7 linked regions of the Homo sapiens genome follow. The protein of the gene in region 3 interacts with the protein of the main gene of each other region in a biochemical or structural test. Each region holds a gene or a part of one and is shown on either strand. Other genes may lie near its edges. The genes, in order: RSBN1, FMNL3, PATJ, MTMR1, XKR7, DLL1 and GAGE12J.

What was found.
Region 1: the proteins of PATJ (region 3) and RSBN1 interact in a test that uses a peptide from one of them, tested with the Homo sapiens proteins (one large-scale study listed by IntAct).
Region 2: the proteins of PATJ (region 3) and FMNL3 interact in a test that uses a peptide from one of them, tested with the Homo sapiens proteins (one large-scale study listed by IntAct).
Region 4: the proteins of PATJ (region 3) and MTMR1 interact in a test that uses a peptide from one of them, tested with the Homo sapiens proteins (one large-scale study listed by IntAct).
Region 5: the proteins of PATJ (region 3) and XKR7 interact in a test that uses a peptide from one of them, tested with the Homo sapiens proteins (one large-scale study listed by IntAct).
Region 6: the proteins of PATJ (region 3) and DLL1 interact in a test that uses a peptide from one of them, tested with the Homo sapiens proteins (one large-scale study listed by IntAct).
Region 7: the proteins of PATJ (region 3) and GAGE12J interact in a test that uses a peptide from one of them, tested with the Homo sapiens proteins (one large-scale study listed by IntAct).

The regions. Positions count from the first base shown.
Region 1 is NC_000001.11:113,805,556-113,810,039, reverse strand, and holds part of RSBN1 (lysine-specific demethylase 9), read left to right. Parts: intron 1-4,484. UniProt on the Homo sapiens protein: Histone demethylase that specifically demethylates dimethylated 'Lys-20' of histone H4 (H4K20me2), thereby modulating chromosome architecture.
Region 2 is NC_000012.12:49,700,592-49,705,075, reverse strand, and holds part of FMNL3 (formin-like protein 3), read left to right. Parts: intron 1-4,484. UniProt on the Homo sapiens protein: Plays a role in the regulation of cell morphology and cytoskeletal organization. Required in the control of cell shape and migration. Required for developmental angiogenesis.
Region 3 is NC_000001.11:62,119,220-62,123,703, forward strand, and holds part of PATJ (inaD-like protein), read left to right. Parts: intron 1-1,961; coding exon 1,962-2,076; intron 2,077-3,801; coding exon 3,802-3,839; intron 3,840-4,484.
Region 4 is NC_000023.11:150,727,896-150,732,379, forward strand, and holds part of MTMR1 (phosphatidylinositol-3-phosphate phosphatase MTMR1), read left to right. Parts: intron 1-2,213; coding exon 2,214-2,315; intron 2,316-2,629; coding exon 2,630-2,713; intron 2,714-3,574; coding exon 3,575-3,724; intron 3,725-4,484. UniProt on the Homo sapiens protein: Lipid phosphatase that specifically dephosphorylates the D-3 position of phosphatidylinositol 3-phosphate, generating phosphatidylinositol. Could also dephosphorylate phosphatidylinositol 3,5-bisphosphate to produce phosphatidylinositol 5-phosphate.
Region 5 is NC_000020.11:32,000,836-32,004,188, forward strand, and holds the end of XKR7 (XK-related protein 7), read left to right. Parts: 3' UTR 1-2,552; downstream 2,553-3,353.
Region 6 is NC_000006.12:170,284,157-170,288,326, reverse strand, and holds part of DLL1 (delta-like protein 1 precursor), read left to right. Parts: coding exon 1-88; intron 89-2,028; coding exon 2,029-2,089; intron 2,090-2,627; coding exon 2,628-2,758; intron 2,759-2,903; coding exon 2,904-3,073; intron 3,074-3,191; coding exon 3,192-3,408; intron 3,409-4,170. UniProt on the Homo sapiens protein: Transmembrane ligand protein of NOTCH1, NOTCH2 and NOTCH3 receptors that binds the extracellular domain (ECD) of Notch receptor in a cis and trans fashion manner.
Region 7 is NC_000023.11:49,324,628-49,328,035, reverse strand, and holds part of GAGE12J (G antigen 12J), read right to left. Parts: intron 1,347-3,408; coding exon 1,221-1,346; intron 1-1,220.

The sequences.
Region 1 (4,484 bases), about 52 Mb from region 3:
TGGGGGATAGTGGCAATAACATGTGTAATAATTTACAATCTTTCTCTGAAGATTGCACAGGCCCCATGTTCTTTAAAAAACACACTTCTGACCTAATGCTGACTGATAGAACTTTCTCAGATGATGGAAATTTTCTGTATTTGTGCTGACCAATATGGTAGCCGTATGTGGTTCCTGAACAGACTTGAAATGTGGCATGATTGAGGAACTGAAATTTTGATTTTATTTAATTCTAATTAATTTATAATTAGTCACATATGGCTAGTGGCTACCACACTGGACAACACCACTCTAAATATCTGTAGTTTGCCAACATGTGAAGAAGAGAAGTGGGTTAAGATAAGCCCATTTAAACATTTTAACTTTTGGCTGAGAGATTGTTGGATTATATACCCAAACTATATTTTGGGTGAAAAAGAATTTTTTGGTCAAATACATTTGAGAAAAACTGTGTACTGTAGCCTTCTACATATGTAACATGAATTGGCAAACTGGCATTTTAAAAGTTTTGAAAACCCTACAGAAAATAAACTGGTTTAACTTTGTTTAATCCAGGCTTTTGCACATAGTTTGACTGATATCTTTTTTGTCCTCTGAACATCTTTATTGTTACAGTGGTATGCAGGAGGCATGCCTCTGGTATTAATCTGAGTTTAAATCATGGCTCTAACACTTACTGTGTGAGCCTGAACAAATTGCTTTACCCTCTCTCAACTGCACTTTTCCTGTCTATAAAATGGGGTTGTGGTATTTCATTTATAAGGAACTTGTGTGGATTAAATAGGGCATTGTGTGAAAGTACTTACAGCAGTGCCTGGCTCATTGTAGGCACTTACTTAAAACCGGCCTTTATTATTTTATTATGCATGGTCCCTAAAACAACTCTAAGATTAATAAGGAGAGTGGGCAGATTCTTGTTACTTACAAAGCTATGTCCTTCCTTCGCTTATCCTCAGATTTTTGGAAACTATTTTAACTGTTTTTTTTTTTTAGATAATTAATGATTCACAGGAAATTGCAAACATAGTCAAGTCCTTACCTTTTACCAGTTTCCCTCAGTGGCTACATCTTACATAACTATTGTATAATATCAACACCAGGAAATTGACATTGGTACAATGTATATGTAGTTATATGCTATTTTATCATATGTAGATTAGTGTAACCACCACTACAATCAAGATACAGAACTGTTCCACCACCACAAACCCTTTACAGCCTTAGGCACTCCCTCTGTCTCTCTACTGTCCCTGTCCTCTGGCAGCCACTAACCTGTTTTGTCATTTTGAGACTATTATATAAGTTGAATCATACAGTATGTGATCTTTGGAGATTGCCCTTTTTCACTCAGTGTGATGTCCCTGAGATCCATCCCTCTTTTTCATTGCCGAATAGTGTTCCATGGTATGGATGTACCATGGTTCACCTATTGAATCATTCCCGTATAAGAAAGGACATTTTGATTATTTCTAGTTTTTGGCTATTATAGATAGAGCTTCTATGAAAATTGGTGTTCAGGTTTTTGTGTGCATGTAACTTTTCATTTCTTTGGTCGTATGGTAAATACAATTAGCCCTCTGTATCCATGGGTTCCACATCAATGGATTCAGCCAACCTGGGATTGAAAATATTTTCAAAAAAACATTGTCTGTACTGGACTTGTGCAGACTTTTTTTTTCTTGTCACTGTTCCCTAAACAATACAGTATAACAATTATTTATATAGCATGTACATTGTATTAGGTATAAATAATCTGGAGATGATTTAAAATATAGGGGAGGATGTGCATAGGTTATAAGCAATTATTATGCCATTTTATATGAAGGACTTGATCATCTTGGATTTTGTTGCCCTGGGAGGCTCTGGAACCAATCCTCCATGGATACCAAGGATGACTATATATATTTATTTTGTTTGTTTGTTTTTTAAGATACTGCCAAAGTATTTTCTGGAGTGTCGGTACCATTTTACATTCCTGTCAGCGGTGTAAGAGAAATCCATTTTCTCCACATTCTTGCCAGTATCTGGTATTGTCACTATTTTTATTTTAGCAATTTTAATAGACGTGTGGTGATACATCATCATGATCTTAATTTGCATTTCCCAAATGGCTAGTGATAATACACATCTTTTCATATCATCATTTGCTGTCTATATATCCTGGTCAGTAAAATGTCTCTTTATACCTTTTGCCTATTTTCTAATTGAATTTTGTGTGTGTGTGTGTGTGTGTGTGTGTATACATATACATATATATATATATATAATTTTTTTTTTTGAGACAGAATTTCACTCTTGTTGCCCAGGCTGGAGAGCAATGGTGCAATCTCGGCTCACTGCAACCTCTGCCTCCCGGGTTCAAGCGATTCTCCTGCCTCAGCCTCCCGAATCGCTGGGATTACAGGTGCCTGCCACCACACCCAGCTACTTTTTTATATTTTTAGTAGAGACGGGGTTTCACTGTGTTGGCCAGGCTGTTCTCGAACTCCTGACCTCAGGTGATCCACCCGCCTCAGCCTCCCAAAGTGCTGGGATTTCAGGCGTGAGCCACTGCGCCCGGCCCTTGAATTGTATATTTTTTATTACTGGGTTTTGATAATTTTTTGTAGATCACAGGTGCAGCTTCTTTGTATGGTTTGCACATATTTTCTCCCAATCTGTTGCTTGTCTTTCCATCCTTTTTGTTTGTTTGCTTGTTTTTATTTTGGTTGTTTTTTTTTTTTTTTGAGATGGATTCTCACTTTGTCACCCAGGCTGGAGTGTAGTAGCACGATCCTGGCTCACTGCAACCTCCACCTCTTGGGTTCAGGCGATTCTCCTATGTCAGCCTCCCGAGTAGCTGTGATTACAGGCATCTGCCACCATGCCCGGCTAATTTTTGTGTTTTTCAGTAGAGACGGGGTTTCGCCATATTGGTCAGGCTGGTCTTGAACTCCTGACCTCAGGTGATCCGCCCGCCTTGGTCTCCCAAAGTGCTGGGATTACAGGCATGAGCCACCACGCCCAGCCTGTTTGTTTTTGTTTTTTTGGGGAGGGTCTCACTCAGTTACCCAGGCTGCAGCACAGTGATGTGATCATGGCTCACTCTAGCCTCAACCTCTGGGGCTCAAGTGATCCTCCCACCTCAACCTCCTGAGTAGCTGAGACCACACGTGTGCACCACCACACCTGGCTAATGTTTTTTTTTTTTTTTTTTTTTTTGATAGAGGCAGGGTCTCTCTGTGTTGTCCAGGCTGGTCTCAAACTCCTGGGCTTAAGTGATCCTCCCGCCTTGGCCTACCAAAGTGTTGGGATTACAGACAGGAGCCACTGTGCCTGGTCCTTTCTACCTTCTCAGTGGGATACTTCACAGAGCAAAAATTTTAAATTTTGTTGATATCCAATTTACTAAGTTTTTTTTTTTCTTTAATGGATCATGTTTTTGGCATCATATCTAACATACCAAGTCCTAGATCCCAAAGATTTTCTCCTTTGTTTTCTTCTAAAAGTTTTATAATTTTAACTTTTGTATTTTAATCTGTCATCCATTTGAGTTAATTTTGTACAGGTGTGAGGTTTAGGTCGCCATTTTTTTTCTTCTTGCCTAAGGATATCCAGTTGCTCTAGCACCTTTTGTTGAAAAGATTAATCTTCCATTGAATTGCTTTTGCACTTTTTTCAAAAATCAGTACAACCTGTAATGTAACAATGATTTTTTTTTTTTTTTTGAGACAGAGTCTCGCTCTGTGCCAGGCTGGAGTGCAGTGGTGTGATCTCAGCTCAGTGCAACCTCCACCTCCTGGGTTCATGGGAATCTTATGCCTCAGCCTCCTGAGTAGCTGGGATTACAGGCGCCCACCACCACACCCAGCTAATTTTGTATTTTTAGTAGAGATGGGGTTTCACCATGTTGGCCAGACTGGTCTCAAACTCCTGACCTCAGGTGATGTGCCTCCCACAAGTGCTGGGATTACAGGCATGAGCCACTGTGCCTGGCCTAACAATGGTTTTTACAATTTAAAATAGTTGGAACGACCTTGTAGCGCATGGAAATCATACGAAATTTAAACTGTGTCCAGAAATAAAGCTTTATTGGAATATAGCTCTGTTCATTCATATATATTGTCTATGGTAGTTTTTGCACTACAGTAGCAGAATACAGTAATTGAGACAGAGACCATAAGACCTGCAAAGCCTGCTGTTCGGCTCTTTAGAGAAGTTTGCCACCCTTGAGTTCACTTAAGAGACATGTTCCTTCCTGCACAGCAGTTCAACAGTATTTAATCTGAATTCATGTGGAGACTAATTACAAATTATTACAATCTCAGACATTTGGAGTTGTTCATAAACAGTTGAAACAAAAATTTAATCTGTAAATGCTAGGGTAAACTTGTTCATCTTTAAAACAGAAAGAAGTGATTTTCAGAGAGATGAAGTGAAATGCTTAAAATTTTTTAGTTGGTGATAGAGCTGAATACAGAACTCAATTTTTTTCCCTCATGGCC
Region 2 (4,484 bases), on a different chromosome or scaffold from region 3:
ATTTGAGTTCTTCTCTGGGGGCTCTTAAGTGTCCCTGTGTCCACTGTTCTGAAAGGTACCCTTTCTACCATGCTTTGGGAACAGTACTGACTGAGTCAGGTGTTTGACCCAGGTACAGGCTTAGGGGTATTTCCTGAACAGTCAGGAGAAGCATAGTGTAGTAGAAAAATCAAGGACTCTGGCTTAGCAAGTATCTTAACTTCTCTGAGCCTAGACTTCTTCCTCATCTGTAAAATGGAGGTAATCCTGTTCTGGTGAGATTGTGAGAATTAGGTGAGCCCCTGTATATAAGGTGCTTGGCACCCAGTAAGTACTCAATATAGATTATAGATTAGCTTCTTTTTTTTTTTTTTTTTTTTTTTTTTGAGATGGAGTTTGGCTCTGTCATCCAGGCTGGAGTGCGGCAGCACGATCTCAGCTCACTGCAAACTCAGCCTCCCGGGTTCAAGCAGTTCTCCTGCTTCAGCCTCCCCAGTAGCTGGGATTACAGGCGCGTGCCACTAAGCCTGGCTAATTTTTGTGTTTTTAGTAGAGATGGGGTTTCGCCATGTTGGCCAGGCTGGTCTCGAACTCCTGACCTCAGGTGATCCACCCGCCTTGGCCTCCCAAAGTGCTGGGATTACAGGCATGAGCCACTGTGCCTGGCCAGATTAGCTTATTTTTGTTGATGGTGTGAAACAGTCAGATAAACTGTTCCTTTCTCACCTTTTTCTTTCCTAGATTGTCAGCTTCATTATAATTGGTTAGGTTTTTTGAAAAAGCTATTTGGGAGGTTTGTTGAGGTGACATAGTGGTGTCCTGGTTAAGCTTATGGACTTTGAAGTCAGAGTGGATTCAACTGTTTCATCCATAGTCTTTGGTTAGAAGAGTGTTTGACCTCAAGCAAGTTACTTAATCTGATTCCCAGTCTTCTCTTATACATGGGGATAATAATAGCATTTGCCACATGAGGTTGTTGTGTGGATTTAATGAAATTGGAAGTCAAATACTTAGCAGAGTCTGGCATCTACTATATGCTTAGTAAATGGTAGCTTTTAAGTTTGTACCTCTCAGCAGTGACTCAGATCTGAGATCACTTGTGTTCCGAAAAAGGGGTTTTAAAGTTTAGAAATCTGATAAAACCAATTACCCTGTTGTGTATATCCAGTCTCGGAATATGGCTGCTGCTGTAAGCTGGAGGGCTTCCTTAGCCCCAAGTGTGTCTGTGGAAAACCCCCTGAAGAGTATCCTCGCTGGGGAAGTTGTATCAGTGCTGAGTCAAGACCACAGGCTCCCAGCCTTCTGTTCTAGACACATGATCTGTCAGCCAAAGTTGAAGAGCTTGAGATGAGGGCTATGAGAAGATTTGATGAGAACATTGATTCCAAGAATCCTAACCCAGCCCAGTGCCTTAATTCAGGGCTTCCCTACTAGTGTGCTGCAGATGGATCACAGATGTGCTGGAATACTGATCCCCTTATTCCTAGGGGCAGCTAAAGTTCCCAGTCAGTCCCCTCTGGATGGGATCAGCTTCTACCCCATGTACTGTAGAAACAGTAATATTTTCTAGGTGTGCCTCGATGGGAAAAAGGTTGTGAAGCTGCTGTGTTACACTGCTTCTTGGCATCCTTCCTTACCCCCTATCTGAGTAGCACTTCCCATTCTGTTGGGTATTGAGAAGTTTGGGGTTGGGGCAATTAATGGAGCTCCTCTTTATGAATACCAGAATGAGAGCCAATCTCTGGTCTGATACAGTCCCAGTGTGTTTTGGTCCAAACTAGATTACTACCCAAACTCAGTTGCTCAGAAGCTAGTATTCTGGCCAGTACTGGACTTTCCATAGAGAGGGGAGGCAGAGGGCTCTAAGGTCTTTGAAAGGATAGCTGTCTGTCTTTGTTGTGATTGTACTCTGATTTTTCTCTTTGTTGATTTACTACAGACTTGACATGGAGTCTAAAAGTTCTGATGCCAGAAAAAGCCCTGTATATCCCTTAGGAGGAGGCTTTCAGGGCATAAGGGTAGGGTTGTGTGACAGGAGCTATCCCTGCTGCAGTTTCTCCTCTCACATTTCCCTGGTGATGACTGACAACTTGGGGGTTTTTCTGTAAGTGTAGCATTGATGTGGGAGCTAAGCTGGCCTGGGTGCTAGTTGTCTAAGAGGCTTTGAGGGGCCTCCTTTGACACAGAAATGGGCTGGGAAAAACTTGGACTAAATATCAGGTTCCAAATCACCATGGTGGAAATTTTTTTCCCAGCCCTCAGGATTGTGGTGAATTAGTTCAGGCTAGAATAGAACTTGGGAGGGGGCAGGGAAAGGGCCTTTCACAGCAGCTGGTCAGAGGAACCTTCTTCTTGTTCAGAGACCCCACAGAGAAGACCCTAGACCACAGAGAGGAGTCTTATTCCCTTGACCTTCTGATATGACCCTGCCTTAGTCTGGGGGAAGCCTGTGTGTGGTGGGGAAGGGACTGATGGAGTGGACTCTGTCATTTGGGAATGTTTTCATTGCCCAGAGGGAGATTCAGCGTTTTTTTGTTTTGTTTTGTTTTGTTTTCCTCTTAAAGTAATACTTATTCTCTAAAGAAAGTATGGGACAATTCAGAAAGAAGAAAAGACTAAAGATTTAGGTTAAAGAAAAACATCCATATTTTCTCTAGTTTCTTTACCAAATGCAAATATTTTCTTAGTTCCTTTACCAAATGCAGCTGATGTGCTTTAAAACCTTTATATTTTTTTCTCTGCATAGAGTTTTATACAATGTTTTGATATTTGATTTATTTATTTAAGACAGAGTCTCGCTCTGTCACCCATGGTGGAGTGCAGTGACATGATCATGGCTCACTGCACCTCACTGCAGCTTTGAACTCCCAGGCTTGAGTGATCCTCCTGCCTCAGCCTCCTGAGTAGCTAGACCACAGGCGTGCGCCACCATGCCTGGCTAATTTTTTCATTTTTTGTAGAGATGGGGTCTTGCTTTGTTGCCCACATTGGTTTCAAACTCCTAGGCTCAAGTGATTCTCCCACCTCAGTCACCCAAAGTATTGGGATTTTAGGCATGAGCCACCATGCCCTGCCAGTATATATGTTTTTTATCCAGTTTTTTTGTTTGTTTTTTGCTTTTGTTATTTCATTAGTTTTCCCAGGCTAGTAATTGTAAGTGGTTTGTTTTTGTTTTTGAGACAGTCTTACTCTGTCACCCAGGCTGGAATGCAGTGGTACAATCTCTGCTCACTGCAACCTCTGCCTCCTGGGTTCAAGCGATTCTCCTGCCTCGCCTCCCAAATAGCTGGGATGACAGGCGCCTGCCACCACGCCTGGCTAATTTTTGTGTTTTTAGTAGAGACGGGGTTTCACCATGTGTTGGCCAGGCTGGTCTCGAACCCCTGGCCTCAAGTGATCTGCCCACCTCGGCCTCCCAAAGTGCTGGGATTACAGGCAAGAGCCACCAAGCCTGGCCTGTAAACATTTAAATGCTTGTACGATGGTCCATCAAGTGAAGGTACCTTTGTTTGCTTACCCATACACCTTTTCTTAGATATTTAGGTTTTTTGCTTCTGTTTGTCATCATAAACAATGCTGTGATGAACATCTTGGTGTACAAAGTATTTTCAATATTTAGAGTTTTCCTTGGGATAGAAACTCAAAATAGAACTTGCTAGATTGTAGGATATAACTGTTTTTGTTTCCAAATGGTTTTTAAAAGAGGGAATAATGTATGAGAAGGTTTTTAAAAGGATGGAAGAGGATTGAGAATAGCTTCTTTTCTCCTGATTATGAAAATAATAAATATTTATTAGGTAAATTTGGAACTTACTGAAAAGTGTAAAGAAGATAATAAAACCTATAATCTCACCATCTACTATTAACACTTTGATGTACGTGTATATATATTTTTTAACAATTGGGATCATACTGTGTATATTGTTTTGTAAACTGATTTGTTCATTTACTATTTTAAGCATTTTCTCATTTGCTTATATATTATTCAGTATCATTATTTCTTTTTTTTTTTTTTTTTGAGATGGAGTCTCACTCTGTTGCCCGGGCTGGAGTGCAATGGCCCGATCTCGGCTCACTGCAACCTCCATCTCCTGGGTTCAAGCAATTCTCCTGCCTCAGCCTCCCAAGTAGCTGGGATTACAGACGCCCACCACCACGCCTGGCTAATTTTTTTGTATTTTTAGTAGAGATGGGGTTTCACCATGTTGGCCAGGCTGGTCTCAAACTTCTGACCTTAGATCTACCCACCTCGGCCTCCCAAAGTGCTGGGATTACAGGTGTGAGCCACTGCGCCCGGCCCAGTATCATGATTTCATTACTGCATAGTACTCTATAATATTTTATCACTGCCTTATGTTGCCTTTTTTTTTTTTTTTTTTTTTGAGGTGGAGTCTTGCTGTGTCGCCCAGGTTGGAGTGCAATGGTGCGATCTCGGCTCACTGTAACCTCTGCTTCCTGGGTTCAAGCAATTCTTCTGCCTCAACCTCCTGAGTAACTGGGATTAC
Region 3 (4,484 bases):
CCCTATTTGGCTAATTAGAAGAAGGCTGGTAGCCGACTGTGAAAAGGAAATGTCTTCCCATCATGATGAGTTGAAGACTGACCCTGGTGGGCAAAAACAAGATTCCATTGCCAAACATTTTTACATCCAGACCCATTTAAAAAATCAGGATCTTGTAGGAACACAGATTTCCTTCTGAGCAGTTACAAAATAGGGAGATCAATGCCTTCTTTTGAGCGCTAAGGAGAATAAGCTCTTGACTTAATTCATAGAAAGTGAGTTCATTAAGAGAGAAATAACTTCTAGCTTTGGGGCCACCAAGTGTCTTTTTTTAAAATGACTTTCCCCCAAACCAGGAAGAAATTTCCTTACTCCACAGAGGAAAAAATACTTGCGAGATCTTTTCCTCAGCCAACTAAGGGAACACAGTCAGGCAAAGTGTACTTTTATAAACGTCTTGGGGCCGGGCGTGGTGGCTCACATCTGTAATCCCAGCACTGGGAGTTCGAGGCGGGCAGATCACTTGAGGGCAGGAATTCAAGACCAGCCTGGCCAAAGAGCCTGGTGAAACCCTGTCTCTACTAAAAATACAAAAATTAGCTGGGCATAGTGGTGGGCTCCTGTAACCCCAGCTACTCAGGAGGCTGAGGCAACAGAATCACTTGAACCTGGGAGGCGGAGGTTGCAGTGAGCTGAAATTGCACCACTGCACTACAGCCTGGGTGACAGAGGGAGACTCCTCAAAAATTACAATACAATGCAATAAAGGTCTTGGCAAACACACCTTTCTGAAATTTTTTAAAGGCAAAAGTTATAATATACTGTACTTCCTCAGTTCTGATTAGTTATCTATTATAGTACCATTTACTTAAATCATATCCTTTAAGGAAAAGTATAAAAACACTCCTTTAAATGTATATAGCCACTATGAAGTATACTGAGATCTACAACTTACTTTGAAATGAATTTTTTAAAAAAAGATGAGTGATGAATAGATAAATGGCTATGTGATAAAGGAAATATAGCAAAATACTCATTGTGAAATCTAGGTGCTATTTATATGGATGTCTATTGTATAATTCTTTCAGCTTTTCTATATATTTGAAGGTTTTCATATTTTAGGAATTAAAATATTAAACAACTTTCATCATAGAGTTAAGAAAATGGACCAAATTATAATTTATGAACTGATAACAGTGATCTTAGGCTTAGCTTAAAATTTTGATGCAGAATAATTTGGTAGAAAAAAATATTCATTATTTGCAATGTTTTCGTCTACATAAGAAAGGCCCTTCACTATGTATACAGTTTTTGTTGAACAGCCACTAGCCTTAAAAGACTACACAGTATTAACCTCACATATTCATTTAAATGAATAAAGGGACAGGTAATGGAGATCTAGCAGATTGGACTAAATTATTACTGATTCTAGGAAAATCTTTGAGAAAAAAATGTTATATATCCCTAAAACAAGTCTTTTTCCCTTCAGATTTGGTGCTTTTTTCCCCACAATTGAGGGTTCTATTTTGGCAGGTTTCTGCTAATCAAGGTCTTATTATACTTGTTTTAGCAAAATACATAATACATTTTGGGTAATAAAGTTGACTGTAACCCCAAATGAAACATAGTGCCCATTAGCTGACTATATATACATAAACACTATGTGGCAACCTAGGAAAATGGTTTTGATTTTATGTGGAGCAAGAACAGCTGAAATGATTCTATGGTCTCCACCTTGGTGATTGAAACCATATACAAAAGCACACATAATGGAGAAAGCAATGGAGGAAATGTCTAAATGGGATTGGGTTGAGGTAGTAAGAGAATAGTGTGGGTGATTTTTGTTTTCTTTCCTGGCCTCCTCACGATTTTCTGTTAGATGGTTATGGTGACATCAGTAATTGGCACACTAATGGATAAGTATGCATTTAGGGGGTCAAGTCAGTGTCTGCACACAGGTGACCCCTGGGTCTTTCTTTCAGGGTAGTCAGCAGAGTGCACACAGCAGCTGTCATCCCTCCTTCGCTCCTGTCATCACTGGCCTGCAAAACCTGGTTGGCACAAAAAGAGTTTCAGATCCTTCCCAGAAAAATTCAGGTATTACACGGACACACCCAGAGCAAAACTATCCTGTTACCCAAATTAAAAAAAAAAAATGTGTTTTTTAAAAACCAGTCTTCTTTAATATAAATGTTTTTTAATTTTTTGAGCTTGGCCACATAAGCTGAGCTTTCTGAAAGGCATGTTCTGAAGGTAGGAAAGCCATAGAGATTCCTTCAGTGGTGGCCAGGCATGGTGGCTCACACCTGTAATCCCAGCACTTTGGGACGGCTGTGGCGGGCGGATCACCTGAGGTCAGGAGATCGAGACCATCCTGGCTAACCCCGTGAAACCCCGTCTCTATTAAAATACAAAAAAAAATTAGCCGGGCGTGGTGGCATACGCCTGTAGTCCCAGCTACTCAGGAGGCTGAGGCAGGAGAATTGCTTGAAACTGGCGGGGGTGGTGGAGGTTGCAGTGAGCCAAGATCGTGCCACTGCACTCCAGCCTGGGTGACAGAGCAAGACTCCGTCTCCAGAAAAAAAAAAAGAAATTCCTTCAGTGGCACAACACAAAGCACCTGAAAAACAGAAAAGCAGAAAGCTGGAGTGCATGGTAAAATAAAATTACTTACAAAGAGAAAATTAATAAATTACAGGTCACTGGAGAAAGGTCAGAAGTGTGTATACCTTCTATGGGAAAATTGGGCCAGTTAAAAGAAAAAAAAAAGTGTGTATATCCTTGGGGGCAGGGTGGGACAAGGGGTCCTTTTAAGTCTTTTGTTGAATGGAGGGTTATCTTTGATTAAGGTAGAAAAAAATGTACAATGAAACACAAATGACTCAGCCGGGCCCGGTGGCTCATGCCTGTAATCTTAGCACTTTGGGAGGCCAAGGCAGGCGGATCACCTGAGGTCAGGAGTTTGAGAGCAGCCTGGCCAACATGGAGAAACCTCGCCTGTACTAAAAATACAAAAATTAGCCGGGCATGGTGGCACATGCCTATAATCCCAGCTACTTGGGAGGCTGAGGCAGGAGAATCGCTTGAACCCAAGAGGCAGAGATGGCAGTGAGCTAAGATCGGACCACTGCACTCCAGCCTGGGCGACAGAGTGAGACTCCATCTAAAAAAAAAAAAAAAAAAAAAACCACACACACACACAAAAATGAGTCATCCTCCAAGCATTTACTCACCATGTTCCAGGCAGCTGCTGCTATATAGCCCATCCACTTTTGTCAGACCAAATGGTTATGGCCACATTGATCTCAAACAGAGAGCACTTCTTTAAAATAGAGGACACAGCAGGCCGGGCACGGTGGCTCACGCCTGTAATCCCAACACTTTGGGAGGCCGAGGCAGGTGGATCACTTGAGGTCGAGAGTTTGAGACCAGCCTGGCCAACATGGTGAAACCCCGTCTCTACTAAAAATACAAAAATTAGCCGGGCGTGGTGGCAGGCACCTGTAATCCCAGCTATTTGGAGGCAGAGGCAGAAGAATTGCTTGAATCTGGGAGGCAGAGGTTGCAGTGAGCTGAGATGGTGCCACTGCACTCCAGCCTGGGTGACAAAGCGAGACTCTGTGTCAAAAAAAAAAAAAAGAGGACATGGCCCCTGGTGACTTGGCTACCAGCTTGGATGCTGAGGAAGGGTACAATACCTGCTTGCTTTAGTGTCTTCTCTTGAAAGACCTAGAAAATGAAACCATTTTTCATGGGGCAATATTATATGCTAAATATATTATTTTTTAATATTAAAAAGTTAATTGTGTTGCTTCTTTATAGGCACAGATATGGAACCAAGGACTGTTGAGATAAACAGGGTAAGTCAGTCATTTTGCTGTATGTATTTTTCTGGTTTGTGTTGGATTTGCACTAAATGTACATTTTCCCCAATACAGTTTATTGGATTGTGAGTGTGCTCTTTCAAGTTACTGAGATAAAAATATGGTCTAAATAACATCAATAAATAGACTTAGAAAAGTACAGTAGAGCACAGAGATGACCTCTATGAATTTTTTGGCAAATCTCATCCACTATATTCTGTGCTATGTGTAAGTTTTATTTTTATTTATTTATTTTTTCAATCTTAGTCTTTTAACCTGTACATGTAAAGTTTTATAAAACAAAAATGGTATCATGTGGCACATACTAAATAAGTATTTTTTGAGAGCATATAGTATGATTTTTATCGATTTCATAGTACTCCATCTTATGAATGTGCTATAAGTTTCTTTTTTTTTTTTTTTTTTTTTTTTTTGAGACAGAGTCTTGCTCTGTCACCCAGGCTAGAGTGCACTGGTGCGATCTCGGCTCACTGCAAGCTCCACCTCCTGGGTTCATGCCATTCTCCTGCCTCAGCATCCCGAGTACCTGGGACTACAGGCGCCTGCCACCACGCCCAGCTAATTTTTTGTATTTTTAGTAGAGACGGGTTTTCACCGTGTTAGCCAGGATGGTCTCGATCT
Region 4 (4,484 bases), on a different chromosome or scaffold from region 3:
CTAGTAACTCAAATGTTTTCGGGATAGCAACCTCTTCAAATCTCATATCGAATTTAAACTATTATGTAACCCTTTGAAGTAAACCTTTTCCATCGAAGTCCAATTGTCCCTTGGTATCGGTGGGGGATTGATTCCAGGACCTCTGCCTCAGATACCCAAATCCATGGATGTCCAAGTCCTTTATGTCAAATGATGTAGTATTTGCATATAACCTAAGAACATTCTCCCATATACTTTAAATCATCTGTATATTGCTTATAATAACTAATACAGTGTAAACACTATGTAAATAGTTGTTATACTGTATTGTTTAGGGAATAATGACAAGAAAAAATGTCTGTGCATGTTCAGCACAAATGCAACCATCCTTTTAAAAAATATTTTCCATCTGCAGTTGTTCGAATCCTCCAATGTGGAACCCATGGATAGGAAGGGCTGACTGTATTTCTAATTAACGTGGACCTATAACCTAAGTGATTGTTTGTCACATCTCAGAGAAGTCAAGTGAAAAGCAGAGACCAATACATTTCCCCAGTTTGTTGTTTTAAGACTACGTTCAGAACAATGTGGATGGTCAGAGACTTCCTAAAGGGACAGCAGTGGCCCATAAATTCTGTGATTAAAAATGAGATTAAGTTTCTTGGCTATCTTGGAATTTTTATGTTGAGCTGGGCTTATTTGTTTATTTTGTACCCTTCTTCTAATAATTTAAGTAGAAATGTGTGTGATAACTTTAATCACGAAGTCATGTAGGACCCACTCCTAATTGATGTATTTTATTCCCAGTGACTTGACTTTGGTAATGTTTACCAAAAACCCTACCTGAAGTACCAGAAAAGAGATCCTGCCTGCAGGATCATCAGCGCCCCTTCCAAATTTTGGGTTAGGATTCCTTACAATCTATTTATTTTGATTCAATCTCTGAAGATAGCTCCCTCTGGTTGGTCCTAGACTGCGTTCAAAACCATTTTTTTTTTTTCCAAAGAACCCTTTACTCTTCCAGATCATGAATCTGTTGGCTTACTAAACTCACTTTAGTCACTCCCTGACAACTGTCCTTCTCAGGCAGGGTTCCCCATATGGAACAATGGCAAGCAGAGGGGTGACTTGATCGGTTCTGCAATTTTGAAACATGTCGTCCCCTTTCTCATGACGCTTGAGTATCTTCCCATTATCCTTAGACTAAAAGAAAAACTCTCCTTACAAGACTGCTCTGCCTGACCCACTTTCCTCTGCAGCTTGGTCTCGAACTGCCCTCCTCTCATTCTGGCCATCCCAGTCACATGGGCTTTCCTTTGGTGGTTCATACTTGACACACCCACCCACACACACACACACACACACACACACATCCCAGAATCTTTGCATGTGCTCTTTCCTTAGCTTGTAAGCAATCTTAAATAGCAAGTCAGCTCAGTCAGCCACCAAGGTGTATGTGTGTAGCCATGTAGCTTAGAGGGAGGGCATGTCAGGAAATTATGTTGCTTAGGCAGGCATCCTGGGGCTCTTTTACTAAGATATTTTTATGGCTGGGGTGAGCATTTGCTAACAACTGCTTTAAATGTTCTCTAACCTAGATTACTAAGGTAATGCTCCCAGCCTTCTCAGATCATGCCTAAGAGCTTTACAAGGTGTGGGGTTTATTTTTTAACAGGTGATATACAATTCAAAAGATACAAAAGCTGTGTATAGTAAAAAATCAGTCTCCTTCCACCCACCACCCTGCCACCCTGTTCCACTCATTTCAGGCACCCACTGTGGCCGATTTCTAATGTAACCCTCCACAGATAGCCTATGCACATGAGAATGTATGTATAGTCCTTCTTTGAAAACATAAGTGGGGCCAGGCGCAGTGGCTCATGCCTGTAATCCCAGCACTTTGGAAGGCCGAGGCAGTTGGATTACGTGAGGTCAGGAGTTTGAGACCAGCCTGACCAACATAGTGAAACCTTGTCTCTACTAAAAATGCAAAAATTAGCCGGTAGTGGTGGTGGGTGCCTGTAATCCCAGCTACTCGGGAGGCTGAGGCAGGAGAATTGCTTGAACCAGGGAGGCGGAGGTTGCAATGAGTGGAGACTGTGCCGTTGGAGCAGGATAAAGTATAAAAGGAGAAATGAATTAAAAAAAAATAATTTCCTTATTTATGGCACGGTATCTGGCTTATAGGTGCCTGATGTATGTTGAATAACCGAGTTTTGCTAATTGTTTAACAGGATATGAGGAACTTGCGGCTTGCTTATAAACAGGAAGAACAGAGTAAACTAGGGATATTTGAAAACCTCAACAAACATGCATTTCCTCTTTCTAACGGACAGGTAAATACACCAGAGTAAACCTTTTCTGCATGCATTTGTGGGGGTCCAAATATCCTATGTTTAATTATTCCTTTTTCCAGAGGTTTTTTTTTTTCCTCTCTTTTTTCCTCTGTTGGTGACTAATATTAGAATATTTGAAATTTGTCAGTTCTGGGTAATGCTTAAGAAAAGCTGCTACTTTGTTGCTGTAAAATTTACAGACTAAAATAGGAATCTTAATACACTCAGCTCATATTAGAATGAAAAGCTTTAATATTGGGTATATGATATAAAAAGAAATAGTAACATATGTGTTTTGTGGTTTTTGTGTCCAGGCACTATTTGCATTCAGCTATAAAGAAAAATTTCCAATTAATGGCTGGAAAGTTTATGATCCAGTATCTGAATATAAGAGACAGGTAAAGTATATTGCTTATCAAACTGAAAATAATAGGTTGAGCATCTTTTTCTCTTCTAAAAGGTTAGAAATGATGTGGTGGAGAAGAAACTTTTTCGAACAAGTTATGCACAGGTTTAACTGCTAGCTTATAGGTTCTCCATCTTTCCTTGATTCTCTCTTCTCCCTGTGCCAAACCTTAGACTTTGTCATGTTTGTTCATCCTGTTTCCAGAGGGTGAGTGGGACTCAAGGACAAGGACGGGTTTAAAAACCAAATTTGCCAGATGGTTTTTATTAGATGTTCTGGTAAAGAATTGATGAGTAAGGATCCAAACCACTGACTACAGTTAGATTCGAAGCATGTGGTGTGACTACATCTGTCTGATCCAGTGTTCCCGGGTCTGGGAACTCTTCAGTGCATTGTCAGCTTCAAATTATTCCACTAAGATCTTATTTTCATGACGTTTGTTTCATGACGTTGTCTCTACCTTATATTTGGTATAATGTTTTACGTTACTTATTTTAGACATTCGTAAGAGGTATCTGTGTTTCTAAAGGACTTTTGAGTATATTCTCAAAAATAACAGAGCTCATTATTTATAGAAAATAGGACAAGAAATATATAGAAATGTGATTCTAGCGTATAATTTTCATGTTTTAGTATGGTTTGGATATTCTTATGCTTCTTTAGATTTTTAGAAATGTCTAGGAAATGGGTTTTACCGAATAAATATATATATTGACTTTTAAGTTACAATAAACAATAAATTATAAACGGATTTTAGTTGCAAATAAGAAATGGATGTACTTCATGCTTAGTACTTTTTCAAAGTGTAAAGTCATGCATTTCACCCTCTTCTTCTTTCTCCAACACCTTACAGGGCTTGCCAAATGAGAGTTGGAAAATATCCAAAATAAACAGTAATTATGAGTTCTGTGACACCTACCCTGCCATCATTGTTGTGCCAACTAGTGTAAAAGATGATGACCTTTCAAAAGTGGCAGCTTTTCGAGCAAAAGGCAGAGTCCCTGTAAGTAATAAACATTGTCATTTATATAGGAATATATATTGCGTTAGATCTAATATGGAGAGATTTAAGACAAAAAAGAAACTAGTGAACAAAAATGGAAAGCAGAAAAATAAGCTTATAAACCTGAACATACCTTTGATTCTCAACAAATACCTAATTATATAAACAATCTGTTTGCTATGACTCCCTCTTTTACGATTTCCTATAACTAAGTATAAGGGGAACTTCAGTCATACCCTCAAAAAGTAGTAGAGAATGACAAAGGAGTAGCAACAACAAGTTATCATGCTATTGTATTACCAGTTGGCATTGCTGGTTTCACTGAATCATCCTAGAGAAAATGCTTCTTTCTTAGATACTGAGCATGATGCCATAGCTGCGTGGGAGGGACATCATTACAGAAGTAGTAGCAGACAGCTGGGAGTAATGGTTTGAGCCCAGAGTTTGCATCTGTTGTAATCCTGAGTCACTTGGCCACTGGAGGAAAATGAGAGGTGGGGTGGCAGAGTGTCAGATTTTATAAGAGACTGTATATTCACTTTGTCCTTACCCTGCCACGTATATTATTGTTGAGATACAAAGATGTTTTTAAAATTAGGAGACAAGGTAAAATTAGTCAATCAAATTGGAATGGGGCTAGATTTTAGTAATAGTTTGATTTAGGATTTGTTTTTCTTAGAATCATAGAATATTGGGGATGGAAGGGGATTTTTAGAGCTCATGTAGTCAGAATTGTTTCATCCTGACCAAAACATTGAGT
Region 5 (3,353 bases), on a different chromosome or scaffold from region 3:
CCCAGCTGAACAGCACAGACCTCCCCACTCCCCCACACAGGGCTCCCCAATGAGGGAGCCTTGCTTGATCCCCTCCTGTCATCTGCCTCATTCTTGTGTCTCCCCCAAATCTGCCTTACCCCCAGCCAGCTCCCTGCTACACCTGTGTCCCACAGAGGCATGTCACCCATGAGAGTCGGGAAAGACAGAGGGCAGGGAAGGTGAGGCCTGGGGAAAGTCCAGGCCTCTGGATAAGGGCTGAGGGAGCTGGGAATATCCAGGGAAGGTCTCGCTTGCAGTCAACACCCTCCTAAGTACTCGAGTTCTGCAGGTTCTTCCCTTGGAATTAATCTGGACCTGGAGTCCACAGAAGCCTCAGACAATAGGGAGAAGGTTTTCTGGGACGAAGGCTGCATGGGATGCAAACTCAAATGCCTCGAGATAATGAAACTAAGAGTAATGGAGACAATAGGGAGTGTTGGGGACTCTGGCAGACAGGAGAGTGAGTGTGTGCCCTGCCTGTAGGTACTAAAATTCAAATGTTTGGGAAACTGCTGGCCACTCATATTTGGCCCACGTGCCACCAGTTTGAGACTTACGGTTCAAAATGTTGAGAAGGTTCTGGAGTGTCCTGCCAAGTGGAAACCCCTCAGCGGAAGTCAGGGACAGAGGCTGTGGCTCCCTCTGAGACTTTGCTAGTCCAACCCTAAATCCCCATCACCTGGCTATCTGAGAACTGAGCCCACTGCCCTCTCAGCTGAAAAGGGAAATCTGGGGGGTCCACAGGGTCCCTGGTTTGGGAATCATCTGATAAGGGCTACAGGCCCCTCCAGTGCCTCATGGGGTTAGAGGCTGCTGGAGTCTTCTCCAGCTTGGGGGCCCCTGGTTAGGAGGAATCTACATTGGGTTGCAGGGGAGTCCAGGTGCAGGATGTGGACTGAAAGCCAGGACCCAAGAGTCCCATTCTGTGCTGGCCCCTGCCACCTTTGGCACCTGTCTCCCTCCCAGTTCAAGCTGTGGTGGGGCCTGCAGTAGAGGTTGGTAGGGGGAGCTGTAGTTTCTATATTAAAGTGCTTTGCAGTGTCTCAATGGAAGGGAACAAGTGGGTGTCAAGCCGCATGGGCAGTAGTAGGGTTGGGGTTTGAGCCCCCTTCCCAACCATAGAGGCTTCTGAGACCTGGGGCTGGGGAGGAAAGGAGCTTCAATGTGCCATTCTGGTTGGGGAGAGGATAGGACATTTCTGGGTCCTTGGCTGCTGCCGGTAGAGGTATGGGGAGGAAAAACTCTAGAGTGGGAGATGTGGAAGTGGAAAAGGAAGGCCCTGTCCAGGCCTGGCCTGGTTTCTGGAGACAGAAAACTCCCCAGGGGACAGAGAGGTTACCCCCTTGTGCTTAGCTTCTGCCACCCTTCCCTTCTCTGGAGGAGAAGGCTGCCCTCTCCTCAGCAACCCTGGCCTTTATTCTATGCATAACCACTGCAAGGGCACCCCTGGCCAGGCTGAATGGGTGGGGGTCCCAGGGCACCTGCAATAATCTCAGAATGGAGGGTATCCTGGGACAAAGAGGGGGTACAGAAGGTGCCAGGGGGGAAAAGGTGATTCCTCCATCTCTCTCTCACCCAAATCCCCCCAGATCGAATCTGACCCTTTTCCCTGGTCTCCATTGTGCTAAACCACCGAACTTGGAGGAGCCTCATATAAACATAGCCCCCAGCCCCACTGGCTTTCCGAACCCATCATGAAATAGCTGGAAGGTATCTGAACCGTTCCCATAGCTCCCTCATTATTTTCTTCCCTGAGGATCCTGTGGTTTAGGAGATTTTTCTCCCAAACCAGCCTCATTTCTTGAAGAAGAATTCATTTTCCCATATTAAATTAACTCAAGCTGAGCTTCTGATTGCAGATAAATGTTTCTAAGGCCTCAAGTCAACTTCTAGGGCTTGAAGGTGGGGGAATATATGTATTTTATTGAGTTGCTTAATACAAAATTCTCAAAAGCACTTGTGGGCACTCATTCCTGCCTTCACAGGCCCTCAGGGTCTGGGACCCCACGTTGGGAATCAATGGTTTAGACATCCAGCATCCTATTTTACTGAAGGGGCAAGCCCAGAGATGGGAGATGGCCAGCCCAAGGTCACACAGCAAGTTGGTGGCAGGGTGAGACCAGAACCCGGTTCTTTTGAGGGTCCCACCAGAATATCCCCAGCCCTGATCCTCCCCTCCATGCCCCTGGAACTCTAGGAATCACTAGCCATGCCTGAGGGGCTAATCTCCCTCTGTCAGCACAATTCCGAGTGATTCTTCCCCTCCCTGTCGTCTCTTCCTCCCTAACGGGCCCTCACCCCTGTCCTCTTCTGTTTCCTTTTCCTGGTCCCACCTCCTGGTATTTACTACATCTGTGCCATCCCTCATCCCCCTGACCCCCATTCACCCTCCGAGCTTCCCCCAGGAGGGGGAGGGGGAGGGGGCCCCGAGCTGGGGCCTCTTTACTGAGACTCTTTTGTACACCACAAACTTTTTGTATATTTTTAATTTTGCTGCGACATGAGATATTAAAAGTCATTTCAGTACGTGCTGCTTGTGTCCTATTGTTTTGGCTGTTCTGGGCCAGGGGAAGGAGATGAGGAAGGAGGGATAGGTAGGGTACCACTTGCCACAATCTCTGTGGCTCAAGAGAGAAAGGCCTTTGGCTGGGAGAGGGTGGGACATTACACAACATCTCCTGTTTATTGGGCAGCATTTCAATCAATCAACCAGAATCCTCAGGCCAAAAGTTCTACAGATTATCTCCAAACTCATTTTACAGATAAAGTGGGTGGGGGGAGATAAAGGGTGGGGATACTTGTCAGAGATCACAGAATGAGTCTATGACAAAATCAGGGCCCAGACTGAAGTTCCTAACTCCACTACAGCCAATACTTATTGAGAACCTACTGGGTGCCAGGCAGTTCTTGGCATAGTGAACAAGAAAGATATAAAACAGGCAAGGTCCCTGCCCTCAAGGAGCTTACATCCTATCCTAGGGGGTATTGCCTCTAAGAGGGCCTCTGTCTCCAGGGCTTCCATCCTAATCCAGTGGTTCTCAAACTTCAAAGTGCATGAGAATCACTTGGAGAAGAGGGGATATGTTTTAAATGCATATTTCTGCCTCCATAATCAGGGAATAGGTAGAACATGCCTGGAAATCTGCATTTTTAAAGTTCTTCAGGTGTGTTTAAAGAACATGCCTGGGAATCCTGCATTCTGGTGCAAGCGGATCTGAGGACCTGGACCTTGCAGATCTTTTCTTTTCTTTTTTTTTTTTTTCCAGAGACGAGTCTCACTCTGTCACCTAGGCTAGATTGCAGTGATGCAATCATAGCTCACTGCAGCCTTG
Region 6 (4,170 bases), on a different chromosome or scaffold from region 3:
CGGGACGATGCCTTCGGCCACTTCACCTGTGGGGAGCGTGGGGAGAAAGTGTGCAACCCTGGCTGGAAAGGGCCCTACTGCACAGAGCGTGAGTCTCTGGGAAGGCACCGCTGGCTCACTCGTCCACGAACACGGACCGCGCGCAGGGACGGGGCTTCCTGAGCCACGGGGGGCTTGGGACTGTAGAGATGTTCTGGTGGGGAAACTGAGGCCCAGAGGACAGAAGTGGATTGCTATAAGTCACAGCTCGTCAGTGGGGGGGTTGGGGTCAACGCAGACATTTTAACATCCCAGGCTGTGTTTATCCACTATCGGAACTGCCTTTCTTAATCAGGGAGGATTTTAGAGACAGGGCCAGGGGTCAGGAAGTAAAGCCAGTGCTACCCCCAGGGTGTGTGTATTAGAGAGGGAGAGGAGGAAGGAAGGGAGGAACACAGAGAGAGCTTGTGTGTCAGGGGCACCATTTCAACCCGAGTTCCCAGTGCTGGAACAGCATCACACTGGGAAACGTTCCATTTTCTCTCTGGAGCTGGTGTGCTTGACCTCTCTGGAGCAAACGCCTTTCCGGATACTCCCTGTGACACGCACTGTCTATGCTGGCCAGAGAGCAGGCTTTCACTCCTGTGGGCTGCTGAGGCCAGGTCTCCAAGGCCTGTGTGGGCGAGGGGTGCACAGCCCCGTCTGGCTTGAATGCTCAGGCAGCACCTTGTCTGGAGAAGCAATGTCTTCCCAATAGTGACAGAGGCTCTACCTGCCTCTTATTAGGTATTGATGTGTCAATGTCATGGCAGGCAGGTGACTAGGGCAGGGTTGGGGCCGTGCTGGCTCCTGGTTCTGGCTCATGGGGACCTCAGGAGCCCTCTCTCCAGCTGACTGAGGCCTCGCCTGCACGCCTGGCCGTCCCAGCCCATTGGTACCGGATTTCTCTACAGCTGGGGATTGGGTAGGTCCTGGAGCTGCCCAGAAACTCCAGGGAACTGTCATTCTCCTTCCTTGGAACTGGACAACCTTGGAGAGGGGCTCTGGGAGGCCCAGAACCTCTGGCAGGAGCTGGGTAGTGCCTGGGGTTGAGGGTGGGTCTTCCCATTCACTGAGTGCCTTGATGTCCTTGCTCCTTAGCTTCCCAAATTCCCTCCGGAACTTACTGAGCTCCTTCTAAGCTTTGCCTTGGCCTGAACTGGTTCTGGGGAAAAACAAAAAAACAAAAAACAACTTGTGGAGCTGCTTGTTAATGAGTTTCATAACCAGGCAGCAAGAGCCAGCTCCAAGCCTCAAGCCCACTGTCTACTCCCTGCCCTGCGGGAGCCTCTGGCCAGTCTGCTGCCTCCCACCCTTCCTCCCTGCCTCTCTTCACCACAGGGTAGCCAGAAACTTAAACTTTTTTCTTCAAACACTGAAGTCTCTCCCCGCCCCCAGCTCGCGCGTGCCATAGATTAGATCTCTCCGGGGATAGGCGCAGGGACACCCGCCGGCTCCCATTGGCGGAAGGGGTGCGTGTGCGTGTGTGTGTGTGTGTGTGTGTGTACACGCGAGGGGTGTGTGTGAGGAGGTGGGGCCGGGGGCGCGGGGGAGGCCGGCATTGTTGCGCTGGGGCAGCTGCCGTGGAGGACAGACAATGGAGCAGCTGTCCTGCCCTGGCACCCTGCATACCAGCTGTCCACTCTTATCTGCACACACACTTTCTGGGATATTAAGAGGTGGAGCTTTGTGCACAGAATTGGGAAGTGGGGGAGGAGGAGGGGGAAGACTTCTGACCCTCTCTTAGAAGAAAAGGGGATAGGGTGGGGGTGGGGGCTTCCGAGAGCCCTTTTGTCCTTGAGCCCCTGTGTTAAGAAGAATGCTCATCCCCAGGGCTGAGTCAAGTCCCAGGCTACTAGGCAGGGGGGTCAGTCCTCCACAACCTGGGAAGATTAACTCAGCTGGGATTTGCTGACTGAAGCCGGCGAGTTGTGTCCTGGCCCCAAGGGCGGCAGCCCTGTTGGGACGTACTTGGCGTGGGGCTTGACCCTGTTTTTCCTTTGCTTGTAGCGATCTGCCTGCCTGGATGTGATGAGCAGCATGGATTTTGTGACAAACCAGGGGAATGCAAGTAAGTCTGCACAAGGTGGTGTTTTGTTTTGTTGCCTTTTCTTGTTATCTTTTCACAGCTGGTGTATTTGTAAAAACAGCCCTAGGTGATCATTCGAAAAACTCCAGTAAGATTGATTGAACAGGGGGCCGTTTTCTCATGTTTCTACTTAATCAATGTTTGGCAGCATGTAAGGTCATGGAGTTGTCATTCGTCTAAGCCCCTTAACGGCTATGAGAATTTACAGATAGTAGTTTAAAAAGAGTTGGCACAGGAAATGATAGTATAGTTCAATGGTTCTCAAATGTTGCCTCATCCTAGAATCACTCAGGGAGTGATTTTTGAGATGCTGACACTGGTGCTGCCCTAACACCCAAGAAGCCAGAACCTCTGGTGGGGCCCAGGCCCAGGCTGCAGCTCCCAAGGTGACCCAGTGTTCTGCTAATCTGGAGAACCAGAGGCTCACTGGTGCTGCGGGAAGATGGTTTCTAGGGTGAGAATGTCCACTGCAAAGCCAGCAACAGTCAACGTCCATCTGAGTCTTCTGCTTTTCTCCAAGGTGCAGAGTGGGCTGGCAGGGCCGGTACTGTGACGAGTGTATCCGCTATCCAGGCTGTCTCCATGGCACCTGCCAGCAGCCCTGGCAGTGCAACTGCCAGGAAGGCTGGGGGGGCCTTTTCTGCAACCAGGGTAAGCCTTCTCTCCCTGAGGCAGCCTGCTCCCTCCAGAGCAGCCCTGGACTTCCCTGGCTGTTTGATCACTGGAAAAATAAAGTCTTCCTGCATTTGATGTCGAGCTTCCTATCTCCTACTTTTCCTGTCCCCACCCTTCACAGACCTGAACTACTGCACACACCATAAGCCCTGCAAGAATGGAGCCACCTGCACCAACACGGGCCAGGGGAGCTACACTTGCTCTTGCCGGCCTGGGTACACAGGTGCCACCTGCGAGCTGGGGATTGACGAGTGTGACCCCAGCCCTTGTAAGAACGGAGGGAGCTGCACGGTGAGTCGGAGGCTCCATGGCATCTCACCCGGAAGCTGGGGTGCCCTGGTGTTGAATGGAGTGTGTGGGCTCCTTGGAGCAACTTTGGAAAGCCTTTTCTGACCTCTCCATCGTGTAGGATCTCGAGAACAGCTACTCCTGTACCTGCCCACCCGGCTTCTACGGCAAAATCTGTGAATTGAGTGCCATGACCTGTGCGGACGGCCCTTGCTTTAACGGGGGTCGGTGCTCAGACAGCCCCGATGGAGGGTACAGCTGCCGCTGCCCCGTGGGCTACTCCGGCTTCAACTGTGAGAAGAAAATTGACTACTGCAGCTCTTCACCCTGTTCTAATGGTAAGGGGGCAGCTGGTGATTGCTCAGAGACTCGGGCGAGCGGTCAATACTGAGGTGGCATTAAAAACAAGCATTTGTGAGTGACCTCGAGTTTATGAATCACTTTTATCCAGACCGCCAGGAATTCTCGATGGAAACTCTATCTTTGAGTCTGGAAAGGCCTGGGGAATGAGAGAGGCCAGGGCATTTGTTATGAAGTTCTCTGTGGAAACCTAGACCAAGCAGTGAATGACTTGCTCAGGGCCACAAGGTGCTTCGGGCACCTGCGGCCGCCTGAGGTTCAGTAAGTGATGCCCACAGGTGCCGGCCACTCCAGCTTGGGAGGATGGCCCAGCTGTGTGGCCACCCAGCACAGTAGTTGGGGGTGTCCCTGAGTGAGGACAGAGAGCCTCCTGCTAGCAGCGAGGGGCTGGCTGCCCAAAGGAGACACACAGCAAGGAGAGCTGGGCCCCAGATGTGCCGGAGCATTCCGGAATGGTCATCCTTCCCCTCCCTCCCTCCCCTGTTGTCAGTGCCTGCTCCTCTCACTTGCTGTGTAACTGTGGGCAAGGACACCCTCGTTAAGCCTCAGTTTCCCCATCTGAAACCTGGGTCGAGTGGCACATGCTCTTGCCCGGCTGTTGTGGCGACTAATGCAGCCACCAGAGTGTTCTGCACAGCGCCTGTCCAGATGCTGGCCGTGTGGTTTCTGACTTGTAGAGCTAGACCTGGACACCTCTCGTATTTGAGGTCCTAAACCATGTCACCTTGCGCTGTGGACTC
Region 7 (3,408 bases), on a different chromosome or scaffold from region 3:
GTGAGACCTCATCTCTACAAAAATGAAAACAAAAAAATGTAGTCAGGCACGGTGGCTTGTGCATGTAGTTCCAGCCACTCGGGAGGCTGAGGTGGGAGGACGGCTTTAGCCTGGGAGCCAGAAGTTGCAGTGAGCTGAAATTGCATCACTGCACTCCAGCCTGGGTGACACACTGAGACTCTGTCGCAAACAAACAAACAAACCAAGAAGAGGGAGAATTCACAATTTCACAAGATCTTATACTACGTATTCAGCTCTCCACACGGAAAAACTAGGATGAAGCAGAGGGCCCGCTCACTGTCTTACTGACAATGAAATCTCAATTCAGAGATTTTCAGATGACTCGGGCCAGGGTTTCATGATTTGTGATTAACAAACCATGCGAAGCAGATGATCTCTGTGTCCCACGCATTCTATGCAACAGGATCAGAGTATGAAAGAAACGGAATGCAAAATGGTTTTAAAGTCTCTGACTTAAACTCACTATTTTCATAAGAACCAAAGATAGGTTTAGAAGGGAAAGGACTCACTCAGAATCTCGCCAAGGCTGTAAGAGCTGGTATTAGAACCCGCATGAGTGCTTCAGCATTTTTCACACCAAGTGATGGGTGTTACAAACGTGTTATGTATTGATTAAAAGCAGACCTTTACAAAAGCATCTGAAAATTGTGAGCTACTGGTTTAAGGATTTATACTCAAAACTTTTAATTCAACATAGCTTTGACTCAGTTTGTTTCCCTATCTGACAGTCTATCAGTCGGGTGCTGGGGCCTGAACTACGTTTCAAATAACCTTTATATAAGAAGTCTGTTACTAAAGACGCAGTATTGTTACCTCTCTGTTATTAAAAATATAATGCTGGGTCGGGCACGGTGGCTCTCGCCTGTAATCCCGGCAATTTCAATGGTCGAGGCAGGTGGATCACCTGAGGTCAGGAGTTTGGGAACAACCTGTGCAACATAACGAAACCCTGTCTCTACTAAAAATACAACAATTAGCTGGGCGCGGCGGAGCCCGCCTGTAAGCCCGGCTCCGCCAGAGGCTCAGGCAGGAGAATCACTTGAACCCTGGAGACAGAATTTCCAGTGAGCCGAGATGGCACCACTGCACTCCAGCCTGGTCTTCAGAGCGAGACTCCGTCTCAAAAACATAGTAAGACTTACAATATGATACTGTGGAAACAGACACCCTACAATGTGCATGCCTAATGGATTGCCTACCTTCTTCAGGCGTTTTCACCTCCTCTGGATTTGGCGGGTCCATCTCCTGCCCATCAGGACCATCTTCACACTCACACCCAGTCTGTGGGTGACCCTGTTCCTGGCTATCAGCTTCAGGCTTCGGCCCTTAAAAATAAAAAATACGTATCAATTTAAGCAGTAAAACATAACGCATGAATAAGAAAATAATATTCACGCTCTCGGTATTATTATATAAAAGCTTTAGCTAACATAATAATAAATGTGTTGATAAGAATCCCAGGAACATTATTTCAGGAGTCCGTTAGCAGAAAACAGGAAAACAAGGTGTTCCAAATATTACCCTCTTCCTTTCCGAAGACTGCCCTCAGACAACTTTGCTGCCTCCTTTGCACTTCTCTCTTATTCTACTTCTGATTGTCCTTCTCGTATTAAATGACTCAAGGCTCAAATCCCGTCTCTCACAGCACTTACACTCCTAGCGCTTAGACTCTTACATGGCATGAGTAGCCACCAATAAACGCTGAGTGAGAAAACTCTTTTAAAAATACATGAAAAAGCCCAAACTGCAGAATATTCTGCAAACCAACTGGTCTATCCTCTCCAAAAATGTCCGTATCGTGAATGACAAGAAAAATTAAGGAAACATTACAGGTTAAAGGAAACTAAAAACACCTGAAAAGCACATGCAAGGTGTGATTCTGAACTGGACTCTGGATCAGAAAAAGAAATCCTATCAATAAAATTATCTGGGCCGGGCGTGGGGTCTCACGCCTGCAATCCAAACATTTTGGGATGCCAAGGTGGGCAGAGCAGGTGAGGCCAGAAGTTCAAGCCCGCAGTGGCCGGCGCCTGTAGTCCCAGCTACACGGGAGGCTGAGGCATGAGAATCCCTAGAACCTGGGAGGTGTGGGTTGCAGTGAGCCGAGATCGCACTACTGCACTCCAACCTGGCCCACAGAGAGAGACTCCGTCTTCACACAAAGAAAAAAAAAAAGGAAAAAAGAAATTTTCTGGGGAACTGGCAAAATTTGAGTATGCACTCTGTATTAAATGACTCCATTTTCTCATTGTTAAATTTCCTGATTTTCATCTTTGTGCAGTGATGATCCAAGAAATGACTTTCTCTTTGTTCTGACGATATACACACCCTCAAGTACATAGGGTAAAGGACCATAATACCTGAAACTTTATCGAGACAATTCAGCATTAATAACAGTATGTATGTGTGTGTGTGTGTGTGTGAGTGTGTGGGCAGCACGGTAAGAGACGGAGGGAAGAGATGTGAAACTGATGAAGCGAAAGCTATTAACAATTGGTGAATCCAGATGAACAGTATATGAGTTCATTGTACTATTCTTGCAAATTTTCTATGAATGCTATGTCTTGAAGATACATACAGTAAAAATTTAAAAGAATATATGATAACTGCACTGAACTTTAGGAAGAAAGGAATTTCCAATTGTGGTAAAAAATACAGATATCCTAAAATTTACCATCTTAACTATTTTTAAGTGGTACAGTTCACTAAGGAGTTACGTTTGCAACATTACCAGCCACTAGGCACAAAAACTTTGCATCTGTGTTTTCCTATACCATGAAAACTTTACTTATTTAATGAATTTATTTATGTATTTATTTATTTATTCATTTATGTATTTATTAGCGATGAGGTCTCACTGTGTTTCCCAGGCTGGGCTTGAACTCCAGGACTCAAGCAATCCTCTCACCTCGGCCTCCCAAGTAGCTGGGACTATGAGTGCATGGCATTCAGCCCAGCTTTAGACCTTTCTCCTAAATGACAATCTAAGGATAAACCACAGGACATGTATAATGCTTATATTCAGCCCTAGAGTACCAACAGCAGTGTGCGTCAGCTGAGAAATCTGAAGTCTACCACGTGGGTAGGATTTCAGTTACAATTACAATGTCAGTTTCTGAAGGATTGATTAGCTGGACGGATTTGAGGACTATGGAAAATCTTACAGTCACGACACCCATTACCTATTGGGGTAAAGAGAAACTTCACTTTGTTCAAATAAAGTTATATTTAGGTCCGAAGGTCCTAAAGGTAATATTCCATAAATGAACCCCGTGAAGAACAAAGCACCAAATATAACATTGTTTGTGAATCACAGAAAATATACTGTCCCGCACTGAGAATAAGGGAGTGGGTGGACAGCAATTAATGGGCATTGTTGTCAGTCAG